7 linked regions of the Homo sapiens genome follow. The protein of the gene in region 7 purifies or fractionates together with the protein of the main gene of each other region. This does not show direct contact. Each region holds a gene or a part of one and is shown on either strand. Other genes may lie near its edges.

Region 1 (4,545 bases), on a different chromosome or scaffold from region 7:
GCTGGGATGTGCTCCTCCAGCCATTTAACTGTTGCCTGCAGCACCTGTTGCCTTTTATGTGTTTTAAAGAGGTACATGAGTAGCTGGTGGCAATCAGCCTAAGTAGGATTCTGAGTCTGGATAATTCTTTGAAGCAAGTCAATTAGGGCTTGAGGCTTTTCAGTGTAAGATGGAGTGTTATTTTTCCAGTTGAGTAGTTCAGCAGAGGTAAAAGGGTGATACACAAAAGCATGCCTTTCTACCGTATGTCTGACCTCATCTGTCCTAGTATATCGCTGCTCTCTCAGGGCATTTGAATTCCCGTCTTGGGCCGTTAAGCGGGCTGCCAGGGAAGTGGATTTTCCCGCAGTTTCACTTTTGTTCTTGTCTACTCTGGGTGGTCTAGGGGCTGTGGGCTCAGGAGAAGGGGGCCTCCCCACTGGATAAGGGGTTGAGGGCACTGTTGGTGCCATCTCCTGCCTTGAGTCCTCGAGCTCTGGGTCAAACAGAACTTTAGGTGCTGGCTTCTCTTGGCCGGTGGAGCGAGAACTTTCCTGAAATAAATGTCCCTTTGCTACTACTACTGCTGCTGCCTGTCCTTTTACCACTGTAGAGGATCTAAAACTAGCTGTAACTAGGAATCTCTATATGGAAATTGATATGGGTGCAGGCACACCATGAGCGATCAGGCCAAGCTTCCGCTCAGGTGGAGTGGGGCAAGTTGAAAAGACTTGTCTTACTAAGTTTCAGATGTCTGGACTCCAAGTGCCAGTTCCTTCCTGGTGTTCAGCCACTGTGTTAATCCTCCGCGGGGATCACTGCTCTGGCGAGGCGTTCAACCGGGGCCATTTCCTACCTGGGAGCGCTCTTTGGATCCCATCCCTCAGGCTGGCCAGAGTCCCTGGCAGCCTGAGGGATGCCCCGGCCTTACTCCACAAGGCATGCCTAATCTGCCTAAGGAGCTGCCTCGGCCGTCCATCAGTTATCTTGCTTCCAGGTCAGGGAACCAAGAAATGTAGCAGGACAAGCGGCAGACAAAACTCTCAGACACCGAGTTGTAGAAGGAAGGGTGTTATTCACCTGGGAGCATCGGATAGCTACTGTCTCAAAATCCGAGCTCCCCAAGTGCACAATTTCTGTCCCTTTTAAGGGCACACAGCACTAAAGATGTCACATGAAAGGGTCGTGATTGATTTGAACAAGCCAGGGATATGCGACAAGGACTACATGCACCCGTGGTCAGGGAGAAACAGAATATGGAAGGGAGTTTCACAATGTTCTTCTATACAATGTCTGGAATCTATGAATAACATCGGCTTCTAAATCATAAGTTGATTTGTAACTACTGGGTTTAGGCCAACCAGGCCCAGGCCTGGTTTTGTGCCTTTGATTTTGCTTCCTTGTTGTTTTTACTGAATAGAAAACAATATAAAACAAGAGGACAGGGTCTTTCTCTCTTCTCAATATCAGCACTGGATTGTAGAACTTGTTGCTGATTTTGGCCTGGCATTCAAGTTAACTCTTCCCCTTGGTATCTGTACATACCTTTGATGTCAGTGTTTAGTACACGTGGCTTGGTCACTTCATGGCTAAAAACGTGCTTGTGGAAGACAAGTCTGGCTTGGTGAGTCTGTGTGGTCAGCAGTCTCTGATCCGTGCAGGGTATTAATGTGTCAGGGCTGAGTGTTCTGAGATTTATCTAGAGGCTGGGAAGGGCTCCTGAACCAGTTGTTTCCGTCTTGTCGGTCTGTCAGGGTTGGAAAGTCCAAGCCATAGGACCCAGTTTCCTTTCTTAGCTTACGTTATCTACCAGAGCACCGTGGGCTGTTACTTGCCTTGAGTTGGAAGCGGTTCGCATTTATACCGGTAAATGTATTCATCCTTTTAATTTATGTAAAGTTTTTTAGTATGCAATTCTCGATCTTTTAAGAGTTGACAACAAATTTTGGTTTTCTGCTGTTATGTGAGAACATTAGGCCACAGCAACATGTCATTGTGTAAGGAAAAATAAAAGTGCTACCATATGCAAAAAAAAAAAAAAAAAGAAAAGAAAAGAAACATTAATGTCTAAGAGGTCATTGAGATGATTTCCATGAGAGACTTTTTGATGTTCTTCACCAGTTAGGATTATTATTGATAATCCTTTTCAGATTATGAATAAACAGTTTGCCCTCAAGTATTTATTCATGCTACTATTTACATTGTAAAATGTGCTTCTTACAGGAATATAAATAGTTTCTGGAAAGGACACTGACAACTTCAAAGCAAAATGAAGCTCTTTTGGTTGCTTTTCACCATTGGGTTCTGCTGGGCTCAGTATTCCTCAAATACACAACAAGGACGAACATCTATTGTTCATCTGTTTGAATGGCGATGGGTTGATATTGCTCTTGAATGTGAGCGATATTTAGCTCCCAAGGGATTTGGAGGGGTTCAGGTGGGTATGATTCATAGTATCAATTGCAGAATTCACTGTGCTTGTAGTAAACACTATTCTGATCTTCTACGTGAAGCTTGGGCAACATTTTACTTCACAGGTAAGTATTCTAAGTAAAAGAATTTTCTGAGGAAAAAACAATGTAGTATTCTTTGCAACTGTATATTTTGTTTCTGATATAATCTTTCTTCAACAAGAGCCCTCCGATGTGCTGTTAATATTTTCAAGAGATAGCTGCCTATACCAAGATTCAAGAATCTTTTGTATTATTGATTAGATTCTAGAACATTCAATGATATACAGTAAGACAGAATTTGGTACTTATGAAGACTGTTTAATTTGTAGGTCTCTCCACCAAATGAAAATGTTGCCATTCACAACCCTTTCAGACCTTGGTGGGAAAGATACCAACCAGTTAGCTATAAATTATGCACAAGATCTGGAAATGAAGATGAATTTAGAAACATGGTGACTAGATGCAACAATGTTGGGGTAAGTGAATTCTAGTTTCCTTTAAAAATAACAGATAGGAAAATGATTTCTGTCTCTTCTTTCTTGCTCCTTTTGAGCAGAAAGTTTTCCATATCAGTTTTAATTTTACTTCATACTTTAAAACTCAAAAGTAACTGTCACCTTATGTTCAATTTTTGAAAATATTTGTATATGTGCTCTCTACTAAAGAGATAAGTTAAAGTTTATAGCAGAGTTTACTTCTGAAGCAAAACATCAAATTTTAACCGCTATAACTATCCATATTTCCTGGAAGGATTTTCTGGTGAGGAATTTTAATTCCAGTTACAATATTTGCTCTCATTTTTAGATGACTTGTGTCTCCATTCCTAATTCTTGGGTTTTTTTTGTGGTGAATAGGTAGCTTATCTATTTAATGAGGAGCAGAATTTGAGATGAATAGCTACCTTATTTGTCTTCCAAGCTTAGTAGAGAGTACAGGCTTTCTCCTGGTGACCCACTGAAATTTCCCAAATAGTAACCTTTTCAGTCTCATCTGAGTTGTGTCTCCCCAAAATGGGCTTTTTGCCTTTCCTCCTATTTATGGTAGTTTCCGGTTCTCTCAGTTTATCATTCCTATATATATTTGGCCAAGTGTCTGGAATGAATGTAGGTGTTTAGTTCACATTACTTTCCTTTCACAGTTGATTTTTGATCTTGTAGGAAAATAGTTATAAGGTATGAAATATTTTGGAATTTTATTAGCACACTATAAATTTAATCAATAATTCTTTAAATTTCTGCCTCTCTGTAAGTCACACTGAATTAGAAACTTTGTTTTCTAGGTTCGTATTTATGTGGATGCTGTAATTAATCATATGTGTGGTAATGCTGTGAGTGCAGGAACAAGCAGTACCTGTGGAAGTTACTTCAACCCTGGAAGTAGGGACTTTCCAGCAGTCCCATATTCTGGATGGGATTTTAATGATGGTAAATGTAAAACTGGAAGTGGAGATATCGAGAACTATAATGATGCTACTCAGGTAATTTTTTTACGAGAGTGATCTGAATAAGGAGTGATATATGCCTTTTGTTGTAGACATGTAGCTAATTGAACTTCGTTGTAAATATGAATTTAGATCTCTTAGGGACAGAGGTTAACAAGTTTGACTACTTTAAGAAACTCAAATCCATATTTGAAAACCTTTAAATATTGATTTAAGATTTTTAATCAATACACATTTGTCCACTTTTAAAAAGCTCCCAACCAATTGAAAAACTCATCGACTTTATTTCCTAAGTTCTCTATTTTCTATTAGAAAATATTTCCAAGATACATCTATAGTAGAATGTGAGCATCCCCAGTGTCCAATGCAAGGAAGTCACCATAGAATATCTCTTGAGGAATCATGGAATAAATGAATAATCAAATGGATTCTCAGGCGAAAAGTGAGGTTTTATTAATCAATCATAACATTCTTACCTCAACAGGTCAGAGATTGTCGTCTGTCTGGTCTTCTCGATCTTGCACTGGGGAAGGATTATGTGCGTTCTAAGATTGCCGAATATATGAACCATCTCATTGACATTGGTGTTGCAGGGTTCAGAATTGATGCTTCCAAGCACATGTGGCCTGGAGACATAAAGGCAATTTTGGACAAACTGCATAATCTAAACAG
Region 2 (3,882 bases), on a different chromosome or scaffold from region 7:
AAGAAAAAGGAATTGTAATGGAAATTATCAGACTGGGAGTGAGTCGACCTGGGGCACTCCTCCCCCTCTTGCTCTCCTCTGACACCTCCATCCCTGCCATTCTGACCTGGCTAACTCCTAAGCATCCTTTAAGTTTCAATGTATATGTTATGACATATCCTTATAGAGCCTTTCCTATCACACAGCCCCAACCAAGCACACTTTACTTCCCTCTTCTTAAGGTTCAACATATTTATAATCCACTTCTTTAAAACCTTTCTTTCCCCCATGGGTCTGTAAACTCTTTGAGGGCAGGGACTGGGTCTATTTTGCTTACTATCGTAGCTCCAGTGCCTAGCATGTGGTAAGTCCTAAATACTGTTGAATTAATCAATTAAGCAGGAAACGAAAAGCCAGGTTCACCAAACATTATTACTGTCCTGTTCTGAGTCTGTAGATATCCCGAAGTCTTAGCAACCTAAGTCTAAGAAATACCTTTAGGAATATGATCGATCACTTGGTATGGCAAAGACCAAGGTTTGCCTATCCAATATCTAGTCTCCATGTTATAAGTGAAGGCAATGTCCTTTACAGATAGGGGTATCCGATAAGTGGGTGGGGTTTCCAGGAAAGCCCTTTAGGGTACAGGGGGTGGATTCTACCAGGAAATATGTCCTTTGGCCTTGTCCTTCTTCCTGCTTGGAGCACAGATGTGACAGCTAGAACAGCAGCGATCACTCAGCAGCCCTAAGGCAAACCTGATGGTGGAAGCCAGCACTAAAGATGATGACACCAAAAGAAAGAGGGAGCTTAGGTCTCTGGTGATCACAGAACTGCCATGCCAGCTCTCAGTTACCTAGCTTCAGACTTCTTTCATGTAAGGAAAAAAAAAAAAACCCAAAAACTCTATCTTTAAGTTCCTGGTTTTTTTGTGTTTGTTTGTTTGATGATCTGTTACAATTGAACCTAATCCTAACTGAAATACCCAAGTTTGCTAAAGTGAGTTTCGAGAATGATCTTTAAGCTCGGCGCAGTGGCTCACACCTGTAATCCCAGCCCTTGGGAGTCCAAGGCAGGAGGATCGCTTGAGGTCAGGAGTTTGAGATCAGCCTGGCCAAGATGGCAAAACCCCATCTGTACTAAAAATACAAAAATTATCCGGGTGTGGTGGTGGGCGCCTGTAGCCCCAGCTACTCCAGAGACTGAGGCAGGAGAACGGCTTGAACCCAGGAGGCGGAGGTTGCAGTGAGCTGAGATCGCCCCACTGCACTCCAGCTTGGGCGACAAAGCAAGACTCTGTCTCAATTAAAAAAAAAAAAAAAAAAAAAGATCTTTGAGGTTTGAGGTTTAGAAACAAACCTTCCACAGGTCCTTTGCCTCGTCTGCACTTTCCACTTTGTGTTCTGCTTCTTTCCTGTGAAGGTTCCAAACACACAAGAGCATATGTCCATCTACTGCATTTCCATCCATTGCACAGGTTGTTCCTCTGTGTCTCTGACATTGTCTACTTTGCCTGGCATTCCAGGTGTAAACGGTTAACTAGGGACTCACACATATTAATATATTACCACTGTAGGTACACAGACTCCTGATGTCTTCAAGGGTCTGTAAACTCAGAATCAATCCTCCATAGAATTCTAGCATATTTTAGAGTTATAAAAGAACTCAACACAAATATGCTCAAGTTTGTGTCCTTAACAGTTATCAGATGTTGAATATTTACTTTGTCTGAAGTCTAAAAGATACACAATTTCGTTTCTTTCAGATGATTATGCTGTTTTTATTTCTTACCCTATCTGAGCAGCAGGTTTATTGATTGATTGATTGAGATGCAGTCTCACTCTGTCACCCATGCTGGAGTGCAATGGCACGAGCTCGGCTCACTGCAACCTCTGCCTCCTGGGTTCAAGTGAATTCTCCTGCCTCAGCCTCCCGAGTAGCTGGGATTACAGGCACGCACCACCACGCCCGGCTAATTTTTGTATTTTTAGTAGAGATGGGGTTTCACCATGTTGGCCGGGCTGGTCTTGAACTGCTGACCTCAAGTGATCCACCTGCCTCAGACTCCCAAAGTGCTGGGATTACAGGTGTGAGCCACCACACCCAGCATGAGCAGTAGGTATTTTTGATAAAAGTTTTTCTGTTTGTTTGTGGTTTTTTTTTTTTTTCTGAGACAAGGTCTTGTGCTGTTGCCCAGCCTGGAGTGCAGTGGTGCAATTAAGGTTCACTGTAGTCTCAACCTCCCAGGCTCAAGTGGTCCTCCCACCTCAGCCACCCAAGTAGCTGATACTACAGGTGTGAGCCACTACGCCCAGCTAATTTTCATTCTTTTTTGGGTTTTTTTTTTTTGGTAGAGATGGGGTTTTGCCATGTTGCCCAGGTTGGTCTTGAACTCCTGAGCTCAAGCGATCTGCGCCTCAGCCTCCCAAAGTGCTGAGATTACAGGTGTGAACCACTGTGCCCAGCCTTGAGTTTTTAAAATCTTTTTTATTTCCAACAAAGCACAAATATCTCACTTTCTTTTCTCACAAAGAACTATGCTATATTCTCAGATAGGTCACATAACTTTAATTTGCCTGGCCACTTTGAACTCCCTAAAGCTCAAAGTGCTTTTAGCATCTCACCATTTGTCATTTTAGCAAACACTACATAAGTCAATCCACCCTTTATCCAACCCCAAGCCAAGAAGAAATTTGCTGTTTCATCTGTGTCTCAAGTTGCATGGAATGTTTTCTGGTTGGAAGACTAGTCTGATGCTCATCTTGCTATTCAAAACAAACCCCCTTTCACTACCCTGAGTCACACATGCTACAGTATGAATCATTTCAGTCAGGCATATTCAAAAAGTTGGTAAGTAACAAATTTTAAGGTTTAAAATAGAACATACAACTGCATAAATGACAACATTATAATCACATATAACAATGAGATAAAGACTAAAAGGAAAGGAAAACAGTTACATTAGGCTGGGTGTGGTGGCTCACACTTGTAATCCCAGCACTTTGGGAGGCTGGGGTGGGCAGATCGTTTGAGGTCAGGAGTTCAAGACCAGCCTGGCCAATATGGGGAGACCCCGTCTCTACTGAAAATACAAAAATTAGCCAGACATGCTGGTGCACACCTATAATTCCAGCTACTCAGGAAGCTGAGGCAGGAGAATTGCTTGAACCGAGGAGACGGAGGCTGCAGTGAACTGAGATCACACCATGCACTCCAACCTGGGTGACAGAATGAGACTGTCTCAAAAAAAAAAAAAAAAAAAAAGAAAAGAAAAGAAAACAGTTACATTAAAGTAAAGAATTATAGGTGGAAATATTTTTTATATTACAAAGCTGCCCTAAAGACATATTTTTTAAAAGATATAAATCAACCAATCAAATTTATGAAAGGAAAGCCTAAATATTCAAAACCAAAGTATTGTTTAGAAATTTCAGGAAGAATTTTGTTTGTTTTTTCTGATGGATTATCTTAAAATTCTAGAATAAATTTTCAGGTTTTCCTTAAAGGACCATTTTGTGTGCACAACAGAAACATCAGCCAAAGCTGCCAAGTCCATTTGTAAGACCAATACGGTTGTTTTTTTTTTTTTGAGATGAAGTCTCGCTCTGTCGCCCAGGCTGGAGCGCAGTGGCACGATCTTGGCTCACTGCAACCTCTGCCTCCTGGGTTCAAGTGATTCTCCTGCCTCAGCTTCCTGAGTAGCTGGGATTACAAGGCATGTGCCACCATGCCCAGCTAATTTTTGTATTTTTTGGTAGAGATGGGTTTTGCCATGTTAGCAAGGCTGGTCTTGAACTCCTAACCTCAGGTGATCTGCCTGCCCCAGCCTCCCAAAGTGCTGGGATTATAGGCGTGAGCCACCATGCCTGGCCCAATACTGTTTTTAAGAGACCAGCTGACTTT
Region 3 (4,540 bases), on a different chromosome or scaffold from region 7:
CCTTGCCTGTCCACCATGCCTCTGAGATCCAGGAACAGCGTGTTTACCCATTTTACAGATGAGGCAACTGAGGCCTGGGCCAACACCAGGTCTCGAGGTCACTGCATCATGCTCAGCACCCTGGGCTATGTTCCTGGGCTGGGACAAACTGCCTTCACAAGATTTCAGCACAGCCCTTGGCTCTGTGCTTCACAACTGGGGGAAGAGCGGGGCTCAGACGTTTGGAGAACCCGGTGTCAGGCAGCCAGGGAAGGAGGTGTGACAACCATTCAAGACCACAGGCAAGACTGCAGCAGGGGTCTAATGGTCTGGGCTCTTGGGGCCTGGCCATCACCTTCCTGCAGCCGCCCAGCTCTGTGCTGTAACAGTGGAGCCATGGTCAGTGTAGGAACAGCCAGCTCCTGGAGCCACTGGTCTTGTCCCACCGTTTGCTTGGTTGCATCATTTTGAGGACAGGCCCCCCAGGTCCTTGCTGAATTGCAGGTGGGTGAGCAGAAGGGCAGAGACCTATGGTGACCCTGAGCTCTGTGCCAGTCCTTCCCAGCCTGAGGCCAAGTGGGCACCCACCCGAGTTTCCTGTGCTGTTCCGGGTTGACACAGGCCCAATGCAGCAGGCGTTACAACCAACCCAAACATCAGTGGCCGAAGCAAAAACAGGATACTCAGGCCCAGGGACTCTCCCTCTCTGCTAACTGACCTCAGCCTGATATGGGTGGAAGGGTCTTCCCTGGTGGCCCAAATGCCTGGTTCCTGTCCTTGCAAGTATGGACAAGCCACCTCCCTCTCTGAACTTCAGCTTTCTCAACTGGAAAATGGAGCTCTGAAAACCTGCCTTACAGAGTTTTCATAAAGACTAACAGAAAAGTGCATCTAAAGTGCCCTTTAGGGACACCAAGCCCAGTGTCAGCACAAGCAGCTGCCAGGCATCTGCTGCACCTGCCGGGTGCAGACCCCTGGGGGCAGGACCCCTGGGAGGCTGTCTGACTCCTTGTGGGCCACAATTCTAGACCCATCTCGGTCCCTGTCTTGCTGAATGACCCCAGGCTGGTGGCTTCCCCTCTCTGAGCCTCAGTTTCCAAATGATGACGGAGTTAGACCGGATGGTCATTATGGGTCCTCCTGCCAGGACATTCTCCAATTCATTCATTCTCAGTCTTCTCCCAGTCCTCACCCACAAGGACCAAGGACCACCCCCTCGGTAGCTGCAGGCTCCATGAGGACCTGGTCTTAGTCTTGGCGGAAAGCCCTCTCCATAGCCATCCGTTTCAATTCAAGCATCCTGGGTGACCTTTGAGTTGGAAATCTCTCTCTCTGCTCATCCTGGAGAGGGGTTATTTTCCTTGGAGTGTCCTTGGATGATCCCAGAACCAAGGCTTGCTTCTGTGGGCAGCCTTCCATCCCATCTCCACCATATAATAGCCGCCACCATTCAGCAGAATCCCAGCAGACTGTGCAGTGGGGCAAGGATTTCATGAGCATCCTCCTCTAAACGCGTGAGTGGCGTGCTCCCCCCAGTGGCACCACACGTGGTGGTCTTTGGAAGGCTTTGGGGGCAAGAGGCAGAGGGGTGGGATTGCTTGGGTTAGCTAATATTTTGAATACAGCAGAGATAATCAATATATCTCTAAATGTGCTCTAAATGGCAAGTTCGTGATGAGTACTCACTAAAGATTCCATTTCCCTCTGGGCAATTCTTACTCCTGTTCTTCCCATGACTGTCCAGGTGTCAAGACAAATGGCAAATCAGAGTAAATTTAGAGATCTATAGATTATATTAAAATAAGTGTCAAACTAATGAACAATGCAGGGTCATGAGGTGGTCTCCATTGATTTGTTCATACTTATATTCAACAAAGATTTATTCGTTTACTGTACTGTACTAGGTGCAGGCTTTTTACTGGCGCCTGAGGATTCGACAGTGAAATAAGTCACAGTCCTTCCTCTAAGGAGTTCACAGCCTGGTAGGAAAGGTGGTCAAATCATCAGGGAAGTGTTATCCAAGACCTTGATCAGGATAATGAAGGCAGCAAGGTGGGACTCCTCCAACCTAGAATCTGGGAAGGGGCCTACAGTAGGCTTCACAGAGGGCATGATGTAGGAATTGACCTAAGTGGAAAAGTAAAGAAGAAGAAAAATATTTTAGGCAGAGAAGACAGCGTATGAAAAGGAACTTTGTGTCAAGAGTATGGGCTTGGAGTCAAGTCTGACTTTTCAAATCCCAGCTCCTCTGCTCACTGACTGTGTGTCTCCGGGCAAGTTGCTGTAGCTTTCTGACCTTGGCTGCCCATTTGTAAAATAGGAAATAACCACATCTATCTTAATGGAATGCTAAATGTTAAGAGTGATGGGAACTCACTGAAGAGTCCATTTCCCTCTGGGCAATTCTCACTCCTGTTCTTCCCATGACTGTCCAGGTGTCAAGACAAAAGATGCTTCAGCTTTGGAAACTTGTTCTCCTGTGCGGCGTGCTCACTGGGACCTCAGAGTCTCTTCTTGACAATCTTGGCAATGACCTAAGCAATGTCGTGGATAAGCTGGAACCTGTTCTTCACGAGGGACTTGAGACAGTTGACAATACTCTTAAAGGTAAATCAACAAGGGTGATGAACAGTGTCACCTAAATTAGCCTCCTAAACACTATGCCTGCATTACCAGAGGCTGCCACCAGGGGCTACTCTTTATGGGCGGTTTACTGAGAAAAGTGGCTATTCAATTCCTGACTCATTCGTTTATCTTTCTAGAAACAAGCAATGCCACAATGAATAGCCTTTTACATATTATATCCTGATAAACGTGCATAAGATAAATTCCTACAAGTGGGATTTCAAAAGTTCAAAAACTATGCTGTTGACAAATAATCTCCTATGTTAACACTTTCTCCAACAGTCTACGAAAGTGCCTTTTTTCCCACTCCTTTTCCAGCACTGGGTATGGACAACTTTAAATATTCTGCCTGTCTCACAGATGAAAAGCTATAACTTATTTCACTTTGCATTCCTCTAATTATGAAGGAGCCCTCTTCTTTTTTCATATATTTACTATGTACTTACATATTTTAACTTGAGGATTTTGTCTATATTCTTAGCATATTTTTCTTTTGGGTTGTTTAATATTCTTTTATGGACTTGTGTTAATTCAGTGAAAATTAAGGAAATTATCCCTACCTAGCCTTGGTATCTGTAAAGCTACCTACCTTTATATTTATTTATACCTCCTTTTTATGCTAACCTATTAAAATAACTTGGCTTTCTTTTTGTTTTATGGAAACATTAGCAGCACATCAAAAACAGTTTTTGTAGGAGGAGGTAACTTCTGCAAATGGCTGCCTTTCAAACCTTGTCAAGGGCTTAGGTAACTTTCAAAGATGCAGAAAGGACTCACACTCTAATTTCACAGCTGAGAAAACTGAGGCCCAGAGACAGAAATGTCTAAACCAAAGTCACCTCGTGAATTATACGATTAGACGTAGTTATATCACCAATTTTATTTAAAGTGTCATTCTCTGAATCATTATAACTAGGTAGATATTGTCCATTACAGAGCCAAGTTACAATATTATGATTACATCTCTTTTCTTATACGGTATAGTCTTTTGTTTTTCCTTAAGTTAGTAATTGCCCTGTTGTTTCTCACTTGAATTATTTTCTTCTCATATATACTTAATTATTTTCATGAGCATCATCCTGTATCTATCATGACATTTATTATTTTTTGAGACAAGGTCTCACTCTGTCACCCAAGCTAGAGTACACTGCCAGCCTCAACCTCCTGGGCTCAACTGATCCTCTCACCTCAGCCTCCCCAGTAGCCGGGACTACAGGTGCACACCACCACACCTGGCTAAGTTTTACATTTTTTGTAGCGGTGGAGTCTCACCATTTTGCCCAGGCTGGTCTCGAACTCCCGGCCTCAAGTGATCCTCCTGCCTTGGCCTCCCGAAGTACTGGGATTACAGGCGTGAGCCACCACACCCAGTCACGACATTTATTCCCATCCCCCTGTTCTCCAGAGACCTATCATAAAGACACTTTGTCCTCCTCCTCCTATAAGAATTATTGCTTTCTTTTGGTGCAACTGCTTTTGGTGTCATGAAGTCTTTGCCCGTGCCTATGTCCTGAATGGTATTGCCCAGGTTTTTTATGGTTTTGGGTTTTACATTTAAGTATTTAAACCATCTTGAGTTAAGTTTTTAATAAGGTGTAAGGAAGGGATCCAGTTCCAGTTTTCTGCATACATCTAGCCAGTTTTCCCAGCACCATTTATTAAATACAGAATCCTTTCCCCACTGCTTGTTTTTGTCAGGTTTGTTGAAGATCAGATGGTTGTAGACATGTGGTGTTATTTCTGAAGTTTCTGTTCTGTTCCATTGGTCTATATGTCTGTTTTGGTACCAGTACCATGCTGTTTTGCTTACTGTATCCTTGTAGTATAGTTTGAAGCCAGGTAGCATGATGTCTCCAGCTTTGTTCTTTTTGCTTAGGATTGTCTTGCTATATGTGCTCTTTTTTTGGTTCCATATGAAATTTAAAGTAGTTTTTTT
Region 4 (4,659 bases), on a different chromosome or scaffold from region 7:
ATATTTAATGCCACTGATTTGTACACTTAAAAATAGTTAAAATGATAGATTTTATGTTATGTATATTTTACCACAATTTAAAAAGAAACAAAAACAAAATTTTGTTCACAAGATGTTTTTTCTAACTCCTAGACTACACAGTCCTTTCTGCTTAAAATACTCTGTGATTGGCCTGGCGCGGTGGCTCACGCCTGTAATCCCAGCACTTTGGGAGCTGAGGCAGGAGGATCACGAGGTCAGGAGATCAAAACCATCCTGACTAACACGTGAAACCCCATCTCTACTAAAACTACAAAAATTAGCCGGGCGAGTTGGCGGGAGCCTGTAATCTCAGCTACTCGGGAAGCTGAGGCAGGAGAATCACTTGAACCCGGAAGGCGGAGCTTGCAGTGAGCCGAGATCGCGCCATTGCACTCCGGCCTGGGCAACACAAAGAGACGCAGTCTCAAGTAAGTAAGTAAGTAAATAAATAAATAAATAAATAAGAATAATGTTTCATTTTCTGTACTACTCGGGAGCCTGAGGCAGGAGACAGCCTCCTCAATTCAGGAGAATTGCTTGAACCCGGGAGGCAGAGGTTGCAGTGAGCCGAGATCGCGCCACTGCTCTCCAGTCTGAGCGACAGAGCGAGACCCCGATTCAAAAAAAAAACTGTGATTAAGTGGTTTCTAAAACCTAATGTGTAATACTTGCAAAGATAAAATTGCTCTTCTACCAAACCTTTCTTTCAATATTTCTGAAACTGTAAAAAGTACTTTAAATTCTAATGTTATAAGCAAAGTAGCTAAAATGGGGCTGGTAATTTTTCCCCTCTGCTTTATCTTGGGTTAGAGTCGAAGTATTTAAGCACTTCCGAGTATGTAACAGCAAGCAGGTTCACCACACTGGGGAAAATGTCTTGAGTAATGAAAAGAGCACCAAGATAATCTACCTTATTAGGCAATCTAGGCTTTTTTGAAAGTTATAAATGAAAAGAAATACAGTATAAAAGATGTCATTTGAGTATTATCAGAGTAATTTTGCAACGCATTATTTATATATTTCAAATATTCAAGGCACCATATAACTGTTCAATTTTATTTCTTTTTTTTTTTTTATTCAAAGCCTACATTCATAGTTGCTTAATGGGATGTTTTTCTTCTTCATATTTTTAGTGCCTTTCAATAAAATATATCATTGCTTAACATCTACATTTTGCTTAACTTTAGATCTACCCACACATACTCAGGCTGAAAATAAATGCTCTTTTACAAGTTAGATTTTGGGGGATTTTGTACGTTTTGCTTTGCTTTTCGGTTTTCATTGTAACCATAGTCAACTAGATTCAGCCATAAGACATCAACACTGACAAAGTGTAGTCCGGACTAGCTTTTGCACTTCCACATCATGATTAATTTATTATTCATCTGGTACCTTCCTATTAAACTTTGTCTTTAGCCTGTGAACTTTTCTTTCAGCTTCCAACAAAGGATTTCATTGCTTTAGGAATCGAGGTGTGGCTAAGTTTTTACCTGGGAGCAAAGGTGATGCAAGCGTTTCTGGTGAGACCTACCCTTGGTTTAGGGTGGGGAGGGACCGCATAACAGACCATCTGTAGACTCCTTCGGAAAGCAGCAGAGACGCTGCAGAGGGCTTTTCTTAGACATCAACTGCAGACGGCTGGCAGGATAGAAGCAGCGGCTCACTTGGACTTTTTCACCAGGGAAATCAGAGACAATGATGGGGCTCTTCCCCAGAACTACAGGGGCTCTGGCCATCTTCGTGGTAAGTCCTGGATTTTCCTAATAATCACAAACTTCCCTGCTTCCTCCCTTGTTAAAGAATATTATATTTGATTGCACAATCTTTATTATAAATTCTAAAAGGAGTGCAGTGGAAATCAACACTTTGAAATGAAATCGTGAAGATTACCAATTTCCTTCTTTTGTTGTTTTTTATGTTGTATTTTACATAGAAAAATAAACCAGAAAGAAATGAGTTTTAAAAACCATTTAGAATTTTTTTTAGTTAATGAATTAAGTAATCTTAATCACAGGTTATATTTTCCACAACATTTTCACTTTCTTTAAAGTTATGCTTTTACTAGTTTTTCTAACCCACAAACAAGAACACAGGAGCCACTTCTATTTTCCAAGATTACATGTCTCTTAGCATATAGCTAAGAACTCTACACGCCTGGGCTTGATACCTGACACGCTTTTAAAAGTAAAAAATCGCAGAATTAAAATCAAAGCAGTGTTTGACTCTAGAGAAGTTGGGAGGATTATTAAGTAAGTATTTATGTTTAGCTATTATGTGCCAAAAGAAAATGTCAGCCTTTGGGGATGGGGGGAAAGACATACAACATTTTAAAGCCATTTTTTTCAGAAAAGTAATACTTCTGTTGATTGAGAAAGTCGTACATAGTATTATCTAAAAGAGAAACGGAATGTTACAGACTGTTTAAAACCTGGATGTTACAGACTAACTTACTCCTTAACTGTGTTCTTATAGCAAAAAAAAAAAAAGAAAAGTCACAATATTATCTGTTACACGGAGATATCAAAATAGTTAAATATACCTTAAAAATGAATGTCAAAACAATTCCTAATGCTAATTTGTATGGTTTCCATGATAAGCTGGGTTGGCCTAGGCATCAATTTACCTCATTTCTTCATGAAAAAAATTGAGATAAATGGACTTCAAGAAGTCACAGGGAGATAGATCTCAAGAAAGGACTTTCTTAGCTCTCCCTAAGATTTTTGTTTTTGTTTTTGTTTTTGAGACAAGGTCTGGCTCTGTTGCCCAGGCTGGAGTGCAGTGGTGCGATCTCCAACTTCTGCCTCTGGGGTTCAAGTGATTCTCGTGCCTCAGCCTCCTGAGTAGCTGAGATTACAGGCGTGCACCACCACAGCCAGCTAATTTTTTTGTATTGTTAGTAGAGATGGGGTTTTGCCATGTTGACCAGTCTAGTCTCAAACTCCTAGCCTCAATGGATCCGTCCACCTCGGCCTCCCATAATGCTGGGATTGCAGATGTGAGCCACTGCACCCAGCCTCTAAGATTCTATTTCTATTACGACAATGTAACTGTGTTCAGTACCTGATTTTATTTGAAAGGAGGATGTTGTTAAAGAGAAATGTGACAGTTGTATGACTTTCCCACCTTTCCAGATGGGAAATGTCTGGGCTGAACCCCAGGTGGTCTGATAACCCCTATGTCCAAGCCAATGGCAAAGCTCAGGAAGTTAGGGGCCATGCAGCATGGGCTGTCGGGATAGTATTGCCATGAGGACATAGGATTGGGCCACCATAAGCTAAGGGGGATTCTTTTTTTTTTCTAATTTGACATATAGGACACTCTCAATTACTCCTCTGATTCTGGAGTGACTGTGACATCCTTATATTGAGGCTAATTTTTATTTTTATATTCTCAATGCTTATTATATCTGTCTTAGAGTGGACATGCAATTGTTTGAAGAATGAGTAAATGAATGATTTAATGAGCCTTCTCTAAACTAAAAAACCCCCGCACAATGTCCCTATAATTCTAGTCATAAAGGAAACTATGAAATGACATGTATTTGGTTCCACTCAAGAAAATTTTACATACACATGCTGTTTAAACAACAGTATAACTTCATACATAATTGTTCAACTGAGTGGTCTAGACCTACTCTGTCCCATATGGTAGCCACCAGCCACATGTGGTTTTAAGCCACTTGAAATGTGGTTGGTCTGAGTTGAGGTGTGCTATTTAATATAAAATATACATCATAATTTGAAGAAGACTTTGAATGAACAAAAGAATGTAAAATATGTCAATAATTTTTTATGTTGATTACATGTTGAAATGATAGTATTTTGGATGTATTAGATTAAGTTAACCGTATTGTTAAAATGCATTTCACCTTTTAAAAACGTTTTAAATGTGACTAAATTTTTTAATTATATGTGGTTCGCATTTGTGGTTTTTAGCTTTCTATTGGACAGTACTGGTCTACTATTAATGCTATTGATAGAAGGCAGTGTCAGTCAGGAGAGAGGCAATCAAGTCTTTATGGATTCAGTGAAATTTGAGCTGATTTGGGATAAGTATAGATGGACGGGCCAAAAGGAGATCTCTTGGGTTGTCAGAAGAGTATAATCAAAGGCAGGCACAGTTAGGATTTGCCTAGGGGAAATGGACACACCAGTATGACTAGCATGACAGTTTGCTTTGGAGAATCTGGACATGAATTGGAAAGGCAGCTGAGGGTCAGATTGAAAAGTGCATTTTGTGAAGGCTCATGGAAACCTTTTACAAGTGGGGAGCCACCCAGAGTTTTGAAATAATGTGGTCATGGGGGGGAAAAGCAATGTTTTCTAAAGCATTCTCAAGTGGGAATGCTCATTTTTTGTTGTTGCAGGGTGGGTTCTGAAAGTTGGCAGATGTGTTTGAAGGTTTTGTAATAATCCACCATCCAATGACCATACATGGGTTGCCCAGAACAGTGAGAAATAATAGCAAAGTCATAGACTTAAATCTCTGGCTATGCCACTGACTCACTACAGGCTTTGTTTCCTCAACTGTCAAATAAGAATCACACCCCACCCCCTGCCTAATGAAAATGGTCATAGTGAGAATAAAGCAGCAATGCATGCAAAACAATTAAAAAGTGCTGTGAGAAAGATGAAGTGA
Region 5 (3,882 bases), on a different chromosome or scaffold from region 7:
TCCCAGATGCCAAAGCTGTGCTGCTGTTTCCTGAGCTGCCCACTCAGGACTTTAACCAATGGCCACAAGGGCCTCAGGGGCCCCCATTATTGTGCTTGTTTTATGTCGGAGGACACTGAGGCTCAGAGAGGGGGAGAGGCATGCCTGAGGTCACACAGCAAGTGAGCGGCCAGAGCCTGGGACCTTTCCATCCCCTGCACCACTTGACAATACACACTAGCTATTAGCACACTCTTTGGGGAGGGATTTTGGGTGGATCAGACTGGCTGTGAGGACCTCGGAGACCCACCCCTCCTAGCAGAGATGAGGGAAAGGAAGCCAGGGAGGGCCTGGGACCCACCAATAGCCAGCTCTCGCAGGCCAGGCCGCTCCCTTCTGCATAAAGGCTGATGGCAGCTCCCGCCTCCAGAGCACTTATGTGTGCTGAGCATTGTTCAGGCCCTTTCCATAGATCATTTCGTTTGATCCTCACAGTATCCTACCAGGTAGGTGTTAAGTATTTCCTGCATTTTACAGGAGCGCAAATGGAGGCCCAGAGCAGTTAAGTGACTTGCCTAAGGCCACCGGCTGACAAATGGTGTAACCACATTCAGGCCCAGGCAGCCCGACTAATCCCATGGCTTGCAAATCCCCCTAGACGATGTCTGCACCTTCCCAATGTGAGCGGGGCTTGCTGAGGTGTTGAGCATCTTGGAGGCTTAGAAGAATGCAACGTATGCATCAAGACTGAGCTTTCTCCCCAGAGAGGGATGTGGCTGCGTAAACCCATTCACACTTGTGTCGCATGATCACCACGTGTGACTCACGACCCCTCACTGTCCTTACAGGCAGGGGATGCTCACAGCTTATTGAAGGGGAAATGGAAGCCCAGAGGCTTTGGGAACACAGAGGCCACCCTCCCACCTCCCCCCCAGGGAGCTGGTTCAGCAAGGTTGGGCTGTGGCTTGGATCGACATTTTTGCAAATCAAGGAACTATAGGTGCCTATGGAGCACTGTTGAGTTGTTTAGAGGGGAAACGGAGGCCCAGAGTCAGGAAGGGATTTTATTAGGTGTGTCACAGAAAATTGGACCCAAAGCATGAAGCAGACCCAGGATCCCAGCTCTACCCCCTAACCCAACCTTTACTGGGCTTAGAGTGGCCACGAAGCCAGCTGGCCAAGGTCATGGCCAAGTCTGGCTTTTGCAACGCCCTCTCTGTCTCACGCGCCACATTCTTGGCCATTTCCAAACCTTGAGATAAATGACCCTCTCTTTTGAGACTCAATTTCCTCATCTATGGGGCCAGTTATGCCAGCACTGTGTCTGGCAGATGGCAGGGCATCGAATGGAATTGATTGGCCTCCTGGCTGAGGATAGAGACTTCTCTTCCCAGACGTGCGACTGTGCTGAGTGACGGGACTTAATATGTTTGGGAGCCCAGGAACTCTTTCTGTGTTTCTCCCTCAGCACCTCCCACGCGCTGCTGGTCCTGGTGCAGAAGCACATTAAAGCTGTCTTGAGTAACAAGGTAAAGGGCTTGCAGATTTCTCAGAAAGGAGGGCATGGCTTCACCGAGAAGGCACAGTGAAGAAAGAGTGGGATTTCAGGCAGGGGGTACTTTGCTTGGGATTAAAAAAAAAAAAAAGACGCCCCTTCATGGTCCCCATGAAGGCAGGGAAAAGGCTGGTGCCAGGTCCAGGGGAGTGATGGGGAGGCACAAATGAGGGCAGAGTTTATGGGGTTGGAGGGGAGGGGGAGGTTCATCCTCTTAGGGCAGCCCCAATTTCATGCTAGAGGGTGGATGGAGTGGGGTTCATGGGCCTGTGGTTTGTGAAAAGAAGACAGAACGAGAGTGAACGAGGGTGTGGGCATGGGGCCACCTGTGGCCTGGACGGGTCCTGGTCCTTTCCAGATGTGCAGTCTCTGCTCCTGGTTCCACATCTGTACTGAAAGAGACAAAGCCCCTCCTCCGTGGGGTGGTTGCAGGCATGAAATGCATTAACATTTCAGAAGAGTTCGGGACAGTGGTTGGCAGAGTGGGTGCTGCTATTATTATTACTATTTTAGCTCTTGTCATTGTCTGCGTGGAGCTGACTTGGTGAGAGAGGGTAGCCCAGGGGCTAGGGTCCCACTGCCCAGGGGGAGCTCATTTTCTCTCTGCCCTATCCCATCCCAACCCCACTACTGCTTTAAGGGGCAGTAGTAGAGACGAAGTCAACCTCCTGCATGCCACCCCACACCCCCCAGAGGGCGACTGCAACATGCCCACCTTACAGATGAGAAAACCGAGGCTCGAGGGGTGAAGGTGGGGCAGCTCCTCTTGAGAGTCCTGCGGGATGCCCAAGTGGACAGCTTAACTTTGTCTGTTGGTCCAGCCTCTTCCTCTCCCTGTAGTCCCCCTGCTGCCCTCATAGCCAGCCTCTTCTGGGCAAGGGGCTTCAGGCAGCACTGCAGGAAGGAAGACCCACCCTCTCCTCTTCCTCTCGACCTCGCCCTGCCCAGTCTCGCCAGCTCTTGCCTGGTTAAGGCTGCGAGTGCCCCTGGCCTTGCAGTTCCTCCTCTGCCCCCATCTTCTATCACACTGATCCCAACATAATGTACTTCTCTGGCTGCCCATGGTGCCCAGGGAAAACCTCTGTAGCTCCCTGGCCTGGCATCTGAAGCTTGGCCTGGTCTGGCTTGCTGATCACTGCCTGCCTCTGCATGGGCACCACCCTCTCACCAGCTGAGCTTCAAGACTGAGCTCTCAGCCCCGTTGCAGCAGATTCCCTGCCTCCGTTGCTCAGGCCCAGCTACGACCACCTGGGCTGGGCTCCACGGCCTCTGTTCTTTCTTCCGTGCCTGGGGACCTATGCTCACACTGCCATCAGCCTTTGGGTTGCTTCTCCTCTGTTTCTTCGGTGCCTGGAAGGGGTCCCAGGAGATGCCCACTGGCGGGTGGAGGAAGGGATTCCAGGCATGGTGTATGGGTTGGGGAGGCTTCTAGACAGGGACTCTAGACCCCTCTCAGCCTTGTGCCCTCCAGCCCCAGGGCTGCCCTAACCCCAGCCTCCTTCTCTCTGTCTTACCACAGCTGTGCCTGAGCATCTCCAACCTGGTGCAGGGTGTCAATGTCCACCTGGGCACCTTAATTGGTAAGATCTGGGAGCCAGGGGAGGGGGCTGGGGCCTCTGGGACCCCCTGGAGCCCCTAGAACCCTCCAAAGGCTCCACTCTGGATCACGGTCGACCTCTAGGAGAGTCAGTTGTAGGGTGACTGAATTGTGAGCTCCCAAAACAGTGTAATTATTCATGAAATCTGGGAATCTCCAAATTCTAGAACCAAAACCAAGTCTTTGATTCTAGAATCTGTGTATCTTAGATCAAAAAATCTGAAAAACAAAATACAATTTTGAAATCATGAGTCTTAACATTGGAGAATCCAAGGACCATTGACACTTAGAATCTGGAATCATTCTAGAATCTAGACTCATCATTCCAAAGACCAGCTCTTGCCTCGGCCTCCCAAAGTGCTGGGATCACAGGCATGAGCCACCACCCCTGGCCTCGCCCTTTGAAACTTCCCTGCAAGAGTATTCTGAGGCTCAGAGGAGTTGGGCTCTGAGCCATGCCTCCCTGAAGGCTGCTCGGAGGGTCTGTTAGGGAAGCTGGACTTCTGTGATCTTGCATAACTGGCCCCAGTGGTGTGTGCTCTTGGAGTTCTCATAGGAGACAGTGTGATGAGGTGGGAAGAGCATAGCTTTGGGGTCAGACTGACCAGGTATTACAATCCTGGGCAAGACTGAACCTCACCAGACTGCGTGTGCGTGTGTGCGTACGTGTGAGTGTGCATGTGTGCATACGTGTGTATAAAATAACCCTACAGGATTGTAACGAGGATTGAATGAGATGCTGTAAGTCAAG
Region 6 (3,882 bases), on a different chromosome or scaffold from region 7:
TCTTTGCAACATCCTCAGAGACCATCTGGAAAGGGAAAGACCGAGATCATGGAATGTGAGGCCCTCAATCCTGCTTCAGTCAGAGCAGGTCCTTAATTATGTGGATTGCATATTCAATCTCCAGGGAAAGATCTGTTTGAACAATATGACCTGTTCTATTTTATATGAGAAAACAACTACCCCTGTAATGGAAAGGATCTCCTCAGAGATTCCTGGAGTCAGTGTTACCGATTCTGAAAACCTATGCCCTTTTAAGAGAGATTTATGGAAAAATACCAAAGTCATGTGAGTATCAGAAGCCATTATGTTAGCTATTGGTTGTTCTCAGTTGTGAATTAAAATTTCCTGGACAATTTAATTTTCTAAACAAATAATACTTTCTTGTATTGATGGATGTTGTGGAGAATGTCCAGATCTTAGAGGAACATATTTGAAACACACTGCAACAGACCAGCAGTGGAGGTTTTAGTCTGTCCTATGTCTGGCATTGAATAATTGAATGACTTTGGGCAAGTCACTTAATATGCCTGGATCTCAGTTTATTCATTTATGAAATGATTCGGATTAAATTAAATTCCAGATCCAAAATCTAATTCTATGACCTCTTTGCTTTGAAATAGTTATGTGGTTCATTCCCTCAATCACATGAGCCTCACGATGGTCCCTGTTTCATTCACCTCTGAAAGCCCAGTACCTAGAAGCTATTTTTGAGGTTGGATATATTAGTCTCTGAGGAAGTTATCTTAGTTAAACAACTCAGCTAGTCTCTCAGAAGTTGTCACTTCATCTGCACTAAACTTTGTGTCCAAAGAAAGCTTTATAACTTGCGACTGGAATGATTTACCCATTTGGTCATCTAAAAAGGGCTTCTGTGAACATCATTAGGAAGAAAACGTAACCTATCCTTGTTTGGGATGTTCTCATTTATCCTGTTATATTTCTTTTCTCCAATTTAATATAACTGATCACTAAAAAATGTAGTATGAGATTGAATACAGGGAAGAGGGATATAAAAGGCATGAAGTATGTTTACAGATAAGAAACTGAAACAGTGATGGTACTCTAACTCAAATAATGTCAGCAATGGCTAAAGGAAATAAAAATATCTTGCAAAATGATGACCCACATGGCATAGAAGTTATTTTCAAATTTTGAAAGACTTCTGGATCTTCTGTAAATCTGCCAAAACAAAATTAGGACCAAAGGATGGAAATCTTCATGAAGAAAATTCTACTCAGTTAAGAATGAAAATCCCAAAAAACAAACCTACATTCAGTGTCAAGAACTCTCTACCAGGCGGCCTTAGGAATTACAGTAGTGAGTTCCTAATCAGAAGAGGTTAGATGCATAGACTAGAAAGCCTTTCAGCAGGTGTATTGATAAAAGATCAAGTATCAGATGTACAGTTGGACTGGATCAGTGTTCTTTTCAGATGTAAACACCTTTCAGAAATCATGAAAACCATTGGTGCTCTATCCAGACAAAATGCATAAACATGCAAATTTTCTCTAAAAATCAGATGACTCATGAACCCCCGAATCATGAATTCTATAATTCTAATTTTTTAAACAATAAAGTTAAAAGGTAATGACCAAAGTTGTTTCTCCAATTTATAAAGGCTAAAAACTGTTTCCTGAAATATGGAGAACATGAAGCCGGGGTGGGATATTTTGTTTGTTGGGGCTTTGTTGTTGTTTGGCTGTTTCGTATTTTGATGATGGTAGATATGAGGGGTGTAATCTAGAAAGGGCTCCTGGATCTCAGTTGAATGTCTTTGACTAAAGTTTTGTGAACAGGCTGAGCAAGCAGGAAGCTTTTGTGATGGGACCTCAGGCAGTAACTTGACCATTTTCCACCAGAGGAAGAAGAGAGGAACTGTAAGCACAAAAGTTCGTATCCAGCTAAGCATTCAAGCTAGAACCCACAGGAATATATTCATCCCAGCTATCTAGAGAGTAGACATTTGACAAAAGAAAACTCTCTAGTAGCAATTCTTTCTTGAAACTTGGTGAAATTAGGAAGATAATCACTTGACTCAATAATGTACTCTGGTTTCTAATCCCAGCATTCCACAAATACCGCTCATCTCATGGTCAGCAGTGATCACCTGATTGATAAATGGATACTTTTTTCATTTCTTACATTTTCTTTCTTTTCTGCAGTTCAGTGAAGGTCGAGAAAGGGATCATGAACTACGTCACAGAAGGCATCATCACCAATCACCCAAATCTCACTTTGAATTACCACATTATCCTGGACTGCTAGCTCACCAGAAGCCGTTCATTAGAAAGTCCTATAAATGTCTGCACAAACGCTGTAGGCCTAAGCTTCCACCTTCACCTAATAACCCCCCCAAATTCCCAAATCCTCACCAGCCACCTAAACATCCAGATAAAAATAGCAGTGTGGTCAACCCTACCTTAGTGGCTACAACCCAAATTCCATCTGTGACTTTCCCATCAGCTTCCACCAAAATTACTACCCTTCCAAATGTGACTTTTCTTCCCCAGAATGCCACCACCATATCTTCAAGAGAAAATGTTAACACAAGCTCTTCTGTAGCTACATTAGCACCAGTGAATTCCCCAGCTCCACAAGACACCACAGCTGCCCCACCCACACCTTCTGCAACTACACCAGCTCCACCATCTTCCTCAGCTCCACCAGAGACCACAGCTGCCCCACCCACACCTTCTGCAACTACACAAGCTCCACCATCTTCCTCAGCTCCACCAGAGACCACAGCTGCCCCACCCACACCTCCTGCAACTACACCAGCTCCACCATCTTCCTCAGCTCCACCAGAGACCACAGCTGCCCCACCCACACCTTCTGCAACTACACCAGCTCCACTATCTTCCTCAGCTCCACCAGAGACCACAGCTGTCCCACCCACACCTTCTGCAACTACCCTAGACCCATCATCCGCCTCAGCTCCACCAGAGACCACAGCTGCCCCACCCACACCTTCTGCAACTACACCAGCTCCACCGTCTTCCCCAGCTCCACAAGAGACCACAGCTGCCCCAATTACCACACCTAATTCTTCCCCAACTACTCTTGCACCTGACACTTCTGAAACTTCAGCTGCACCCACACACCAGACTACTACTTCGGTCACTACTCAAACTACTACTACTAAACAACCAACTTCAGCTCCTGGCCAAAATAAAATTTCTCGATTTCTTTTATATATGAAGAATCTACTAAACAGAATTATTGACGACATGGTGGAGCAATAGTATATTGTATGTTGTAAAGTGTTCTGTCATTTACAAGATGTGATTCATGAGTGCAGAACTACCACCTTTCTTTTAGCACCAATCCCAACATGAAATTATATTACTCAGATTTAAAGCACTATCATTAATCTTTCAATCTAATTATTCACCACCACAAGACCTATTAACAAGACAAAATGCCTCTATCCCACAAGCCAGATGCAGGTCTGGGGTTCAAAATAACTCTTTGGATCCTACAGAGATAGCCTACTGAGGGCAAAGAAAGTCCTTAGATAAAGAGAGAATATTGTATGGGCCATCAACCATTTACTTTTCCCTGAATGTTAGAAACTACAAAACCACTACCTTGTACCCCCATCAAAATCCCACCTGAACCATCTAATCCTATAAACATAAAGGGGTAAAATTGGAACTCTCCAGATGAACAAAGACATCTAAATATCTGTAGATAGAAACATTTATCTATCTAAATATATTGATAGACCTGTCATTGTATTGATTAATGACAAAACCCTTTAGATAATTATCTTCCATTTTAAATAAAATTTTATTTCACAAATATGAGCCAAGAAAGAGGAAAGTTGATTTGAAGTGAGGATTAGAAGTGAATGACAATAAAGTCTGTCAGCCAAGCACGAAC
Region 7 (3,882 bases):
CTCAGGAGGATCCTGAGACTTACTTCCAGAACAGAGCTTCAGGGGTGCGTGAACAGGGTTTACCCTGGGGGAAAACCTAAGGGGGTTTCCCAGGAATTCCCTAAGCAGGCACAATCCCTGCCAGTTCCAAAAGGCATGTGTGCGGTTGTGTGGAAGGTTCTAGGGGGTGAGGGGCGTGTGGTTGTGTGGGAGGGTTCTGGAGAGTGAAAGGTGTGTGGTTGTGTGGAGAGCCCTGGAGACACTGGTATGTGGTTGTGTGGCAGGTTCTGGAGAGTGAGGGGTGTGTGAATATGTGGAAGGTTCTGGATAGCCTTGGAGGGGAGGTCTGGAAAGTGTTGGGTTGATGGATGGAGCTACCTGGTGCTATGGGGCCAGTTCGGGGGAATTATATGAGAAGATCTTGCACCTGCATCTTGGGCGAGCCTCCACCTGGCCTGTGATTAATGAATACCAGCCATGGCCAAGCCCCGTGCTGGGCGGTGAGCTCTGGGAGCCAGGTCTGTCCACATCCAGGGATTCAAGTTGTCCAGGCCCTGTGCACCTCCAGGGATTCGAGTCGCCCGGGCTCTGTGCACCTCTCCTGCACTGGGGCTTGGTTTGGTGAAGGCCAAGCTCACTGGGGAAGGAGTGGGACCTCGGCAGGTGGAGCCTCATCTAGTGGCTCCTTGGTGGCAGCAAGTCACCTGTGCCCCGCTCCAGGAAGAGTGTGGGCCTGTGCCGTGCTGGCCCTGCAGGGACACAGCTGTGGGTATAACAAGACAGGAACTAGGTACCAGGGGCTCAGGACAGCCCTGGGAGCTGGTGTGGGGAGGGACAAGGCAGGGCCAGAGGGGCCAGCAGTCCCCACACCGGTCGTCCTGGAACTCACTCCCTGCCACCTTCCAGCGACCACAGGGCACGGCACCTGTACTACTGCCACTTGAAGGAGCGCGTGCTGAGGTCACAGTGCGCTCACCGGGAGGAAGCCTACTTCCTGCTGGCTGCCTGCGCGCTGCAGGCTGACCTGGGCGAGCACCGGGAGTCGGCCCATGCCGGGAGGTACTTCGAGCCACACTCCTACTTCCCACAGTGGGTAAGGTCAGGGCCCACCTCCTCCCAGCACTGCTAGTCTGGTGCCTGTCCACCTCCACCGGGTGCCATCCATGGGAGCAGGGGACTGAGGGCCTGGCAGGGGCTGCTGGAGCAAGGGTCAGGGATGGAAACAGGGCAATCACCTGTCCTTCTGTCCTGAAGGCCCAAGGGTCCTTACCACCCCCAAAGGCAGGCAGTGTGGGAGGAGTGGCCCTGAGCAGGCAGGTGTGGGTGCCTGTGCTCCTGACGCACCCAGCCAGCTGTGTGGCCTTGCACTCTGGCTTCACCTCTCTGAGCCCCTTGGCTGCCTGGCTGTGGAATGTGACCCACACGGGCCTTGTGGCTGTGAACCTTCCTGCTTCTCTCTAAGTATCCTGGGACCCGTAGGAGTCTCTGAGCCTCAGCTTCCTCACCTGTAAGGGAAGGAGTGGCATCCCCCTGGGAGGAGGGCCATGGAGAGGCGTGGGCTGTACCACTGTGTGCCCAGTCCCAGGCGCTGTCTGGCCTGATGGCCGCGCGGATTGATGGCTGTCACCCCGGGGATGCAGGCCCTGTTCCGGGTGAACTTTAAGGTTTCTCTCCTTGACCGCTCATCCCTGTGTACCTCTCTATCCTGTGCACCTTGGGGCCTTCTCACCTTTGCTCTGAGGCAGTCGCTGAGGTCAGGGTGGGGCCCAGCCAGGCTTCCTCCCAGTGCTGTGGATGCCACACGTGCCCTTGGCCTCTGAGCACATTTCCACCCTCAGTGATTCCACGTCCCTGCGATTCTTACCCCGGTCCCGGTGATGGCCCCAGCTGGTCCTCACTGGGCAGGTTCCCAAGAGCCAGGGCTCGTTGGGAGTAGAGTCCCCACCTGCAGACGTCTGAGGAGGGCTGGCTGCTGCCATTCCCCTTGGGGAGGACCCGAGGGGGACAGGAAATCAGACAGGGCCCAGGGCCACAGTGGGCACTGAGACTTCATCTCTGGTTCTGGGCTCAGCAGCCAGGCCCTGGCCCTGCCCACCGAGGTTGGCACCAGCTGTGGGAGTCTGGGGAAGCTTCTCGGAGCAGGGGGCTGGCAAGGAGGAAGGGGGGACCAGCAGGGGTCTGAGCTGACCTCCCGGCTCTGTCCTCAGATCATCACCAAGAGGGGGATTGACTACATCCTCCGGCACATGCCTACCCTGCACCGTGAGCGCCAGGGCCTGAGCCCCAAGGAGGCCATGCTGTGCTTCATCCAGGAGGCCTGCCGGCTGGAGGACGTGCCCGTGCACTTCTTCAGGCTGCACAAGGTCGAGCCCAGGGCGGCCAGCGATGGGCTGGACTCTGACTCCAGGCCAGGGATGCACGGAGCCCCCATGGCTGAGTGGGATCAGGACCCCAGGGCAGGGATGGATGGAGCCCCCATGGCTAAGAGTGGGACCAGGACCCCGGGGCAGGGATAGATGGAGCCCCCATGGCTAAGAGTGGGATCAGGACCCCAGGCCAGGGACGGATGGAGCCCCCATGGCTAAGAGTGGTCAGGACCCCAGGGCAGGGATGGATGGAGCCCCCGTGGCTAAGAGTGGGACCAGGACCCCGGGGCAGGGATGGATGGAGCCCCCGTGGCTAAGAGTGGGATGGGACCAGGACCCCAGGGCAGGGATGGATGGAGCCCCCGTGGCTGAGTGGGACCAGGACCCCGGGCCCGGCATGGCCAGGCTCTCTTAGGTCGTGGCTGGTGTTTATCTGGCATGATGAAAGGCAGTGCTTGTGCTATGACAACTATGCCTTTGATCTGATGCTGGAGTGAATGAGACTGTCTGTAAATGGGCCCCAGAGCTCAGCCTGGTCCATGGAGCCCTCGGCCCCTAGCCAGACTGACCATACTCTGCCATCAGTGAGGCCCAGCACCTCCAGGCCTGCAACTTGACCTCTGACCTGTGTCCTCTAGGATAAGAAGGAAGGTCGTCCCACCGTGATCCTGGGACTGGCCCTCAGGGGAGTGCACATCTACCAGGTGACCGAAGGGGCTCCAGCCTCACAGAGCCCCTCGTCCTGCCCCCACCCCCTCCTCCCTTCCCCACTGGAGTCTGGGCTGTGTAGCATCCCTGCAGCGGTCATGGGCGCTGGCTGGCCCTGCCTGGACGCGCCCTGCCTCTGCTGTCCCGCAGGAGGTGGACCGTGCTCCGCAGCTGCTGTACGACCTCCCCTGGCCCCACGTTGGGAAGCTGGCATTTCTGGTGGGTGTCTGGGGGGTCCCCGTGCCCTGGAAAGCCTGGGCAGATGCAGCTTCATCCTCGGGGCATTTTCTGGACAATTCTGCACCCGAAGAGGTGCAGGTCCCTTCCTGCCGGCCTCTCGGGGGCATCAGGGCCGTCCTGGCCTCACGGGCTTTGTGCCTGGCCCTGGCCCTGCAGGCGTGGGGTGTTTAGCTGCCCGGTGAGGTCTAGTTGTTGTTATCGCTTGAAAACTTCTGGCTCCCAATTGAGAAAATCAAGGGAGAAAAGAAGAGCAGGTCATAGAAACGCACCTGTGTGGCCTCTGTTCCTCTCATCCCGGCCCCAGAGCTGTCACCCAGGGTCACCCCACAGCCCGGGTGCCGGGGATAAAAGGGCAGTGACTGTGGGGGCTGCTGGACAGCAGGCTTGCTCTGGACAGCCAGACCGAGGTCTTCCTGTCCCACCCCAGACCTCCACTCCCCTCACACTGCTGCGGGCACTTTCTAGCCAGGAGGGCTGTGTCCTCTCAAGCAAGGGCGGAGCAGAGCACAGTGTCCGCGCACAGTGTCCGCCAACAGCCATCTGCACTGCGAAGTGAAAACCTGGGCCTCGTCCCCCTGGGGGCCATGGC

Evidence for each region.
Region 1: the proteins of FRMD1 (region 7) and AMY1C purify together in Homo sapiens (affinity purification with mass spectrometry, with the first as the bait; 2 studies listed by BioGRID). This does not show direct contact.
Region 2: the proteins of FRMD1 (region 7) and DSTYK purify together in Homo sapiens (affinity purification with mass spectrometry; 2 studies listed by BioGRID and IntAct, with this or other methods). This does not show direct contact.
Region 3: the proteins of FRMD1 (region 7) and BPIFA2 purify together in Homo sapiens (affinity purification with mass spectrometry; 2 studies listed by BioGRID and IntAct, with this or other methods). This does not show direct contact.
Region 4: the proteins of FRMD1 (region 7) and DSG3 purify together in Homo sapiens (affinity purification with mass spectrometry; 2 studies listed by BioGRID and IntAct, with this or other methods). This does not show direct contact.
Region 5: the proteins of FRMD1 (region 7) and BPIFB2 purify together in Homo sapiens (affinity purification with mass spectrometry; 2 studies listed by BioGRID and IntAct, with this or other methods). This does not show direct contact.
Region 6: the proteins of FRMD1 (region 7) and MUC7 purify together in Homo sapiens (affinity purification with mass spectrometry; 2 studies listed by BioGRID and IntAct, with this or other methods). This does not show direct contact.

What each region holds. Positions count from the first base shown.
Region 1 is NC_000001.11:103,748,222-103,752,766, forward strand, and holds the start of AMY1C (alpha-amylase 1C precursor), read left to right. Parts: upstream 1-1,676; 5' UTR 1,677-1,845; intron 1,846-2,202; 5' UTR 2,203-2,248; coding exon 2,249-2,416; intron 2,417-2,761; coding exon 2,762-2,908; intron 2,909-3,711; coding exon 3,712-3,909; intron 3,910-4,357; coding exon 4,358-4,545. UniProt on the Homo sapiens protein: Calcium-binding enzyme that initiates starch digestion in the oral cavity.
Region 2 is NC_000001.11:205,170,169-205,174,050, forward strand, and holds part of DSTYK (dual serine/threonine and tyrosine protein kinase), read right to left. Parts: intron 1,394-3,882; coding exon of another isoform or gene 1,339-1,393; intron 1-1,338. UniProt on the Homo sapiens protein: Acts as a positive regulator of ERK phosphorylation downstream of fibroblast growth factor-receptor activation. Involved in the regulation of both caspase-dependent apoptosis and caspase-independent cell death.
Region 3 is NC_000020.11:33,166,717-33,171,256, forward strand, and holds the start of BPIFA2 (BPI fold-containing family A member 2 precursor), read left to right. Parts: upstream 1-1,442; 5' UTR 1,443-1,493; intron 1,494-2,414; 5' UTR 2,415-2,429; coding exon 2,430-2,586; intron 2,587-4,540. UniProt on the Homo sapiens protein: Has strong antibacterial activity against P.aeruginosa.
Region 4 is NC_000018.10:31,446,162-31,450,820, forward strand, and holds the start of DSG3 (desmoglein-3 preproprotein), read left to right. Parts: upstream 1-1,579; 5' UTR 1,580-1,716; coding exon 1,717-1,764; intron 1,765-4,659. UniProt on the Homo sapiens protein: A component of desmosome cell-cell junctions which are required for positive regulation of cellular adhesion. Required for adherens and desmosome junction assembly in response to mechanical force in keratinocytes.
Region 5 is NC_000020.11:33,013,989-33,017,870, forward strand, and holds part of BPIFB2 (BPI fold-containing family B member 2 precursor), read left to right. Parts: intron 1-1,447; coding exon 1,448-1,508; intron 1,509-3,053; coding exon 3,054-3,114; intron 3,115-3,882.
Region 6 is NC_000004.12:70,478,637-70,482,518, forward strand, and holds part of MUC7 (mucin-7 precursor), read left to right. Parts: intron 1-2,162; coding exon 2,163-3,242; 3' UTR 3,243-3,882. UniProt on the Homo sapiens protein: May function in a protective capacity by promoting the clearance of bacteria in the oral cavity and aiding in mastication, speech, and swallowing. Binds P.aeruginosa pili.
Region 7 is NC_000006.12:168,062,061-168,065,942, reverse strand, and holds part of FRMD1 (FERM domain-containing protein 1), read left to right. Parts: exon of another isoform or gene 1-885; coding exon 886-1,072; intron 1,073-2,186; coding exon 2,187-2,342; intron 2,343-2,983; coding exon 2,984-3,049; intron 3,050-3,203; coding exon of another isoform or gene 3,204-3,272; intron 3,273-3,882.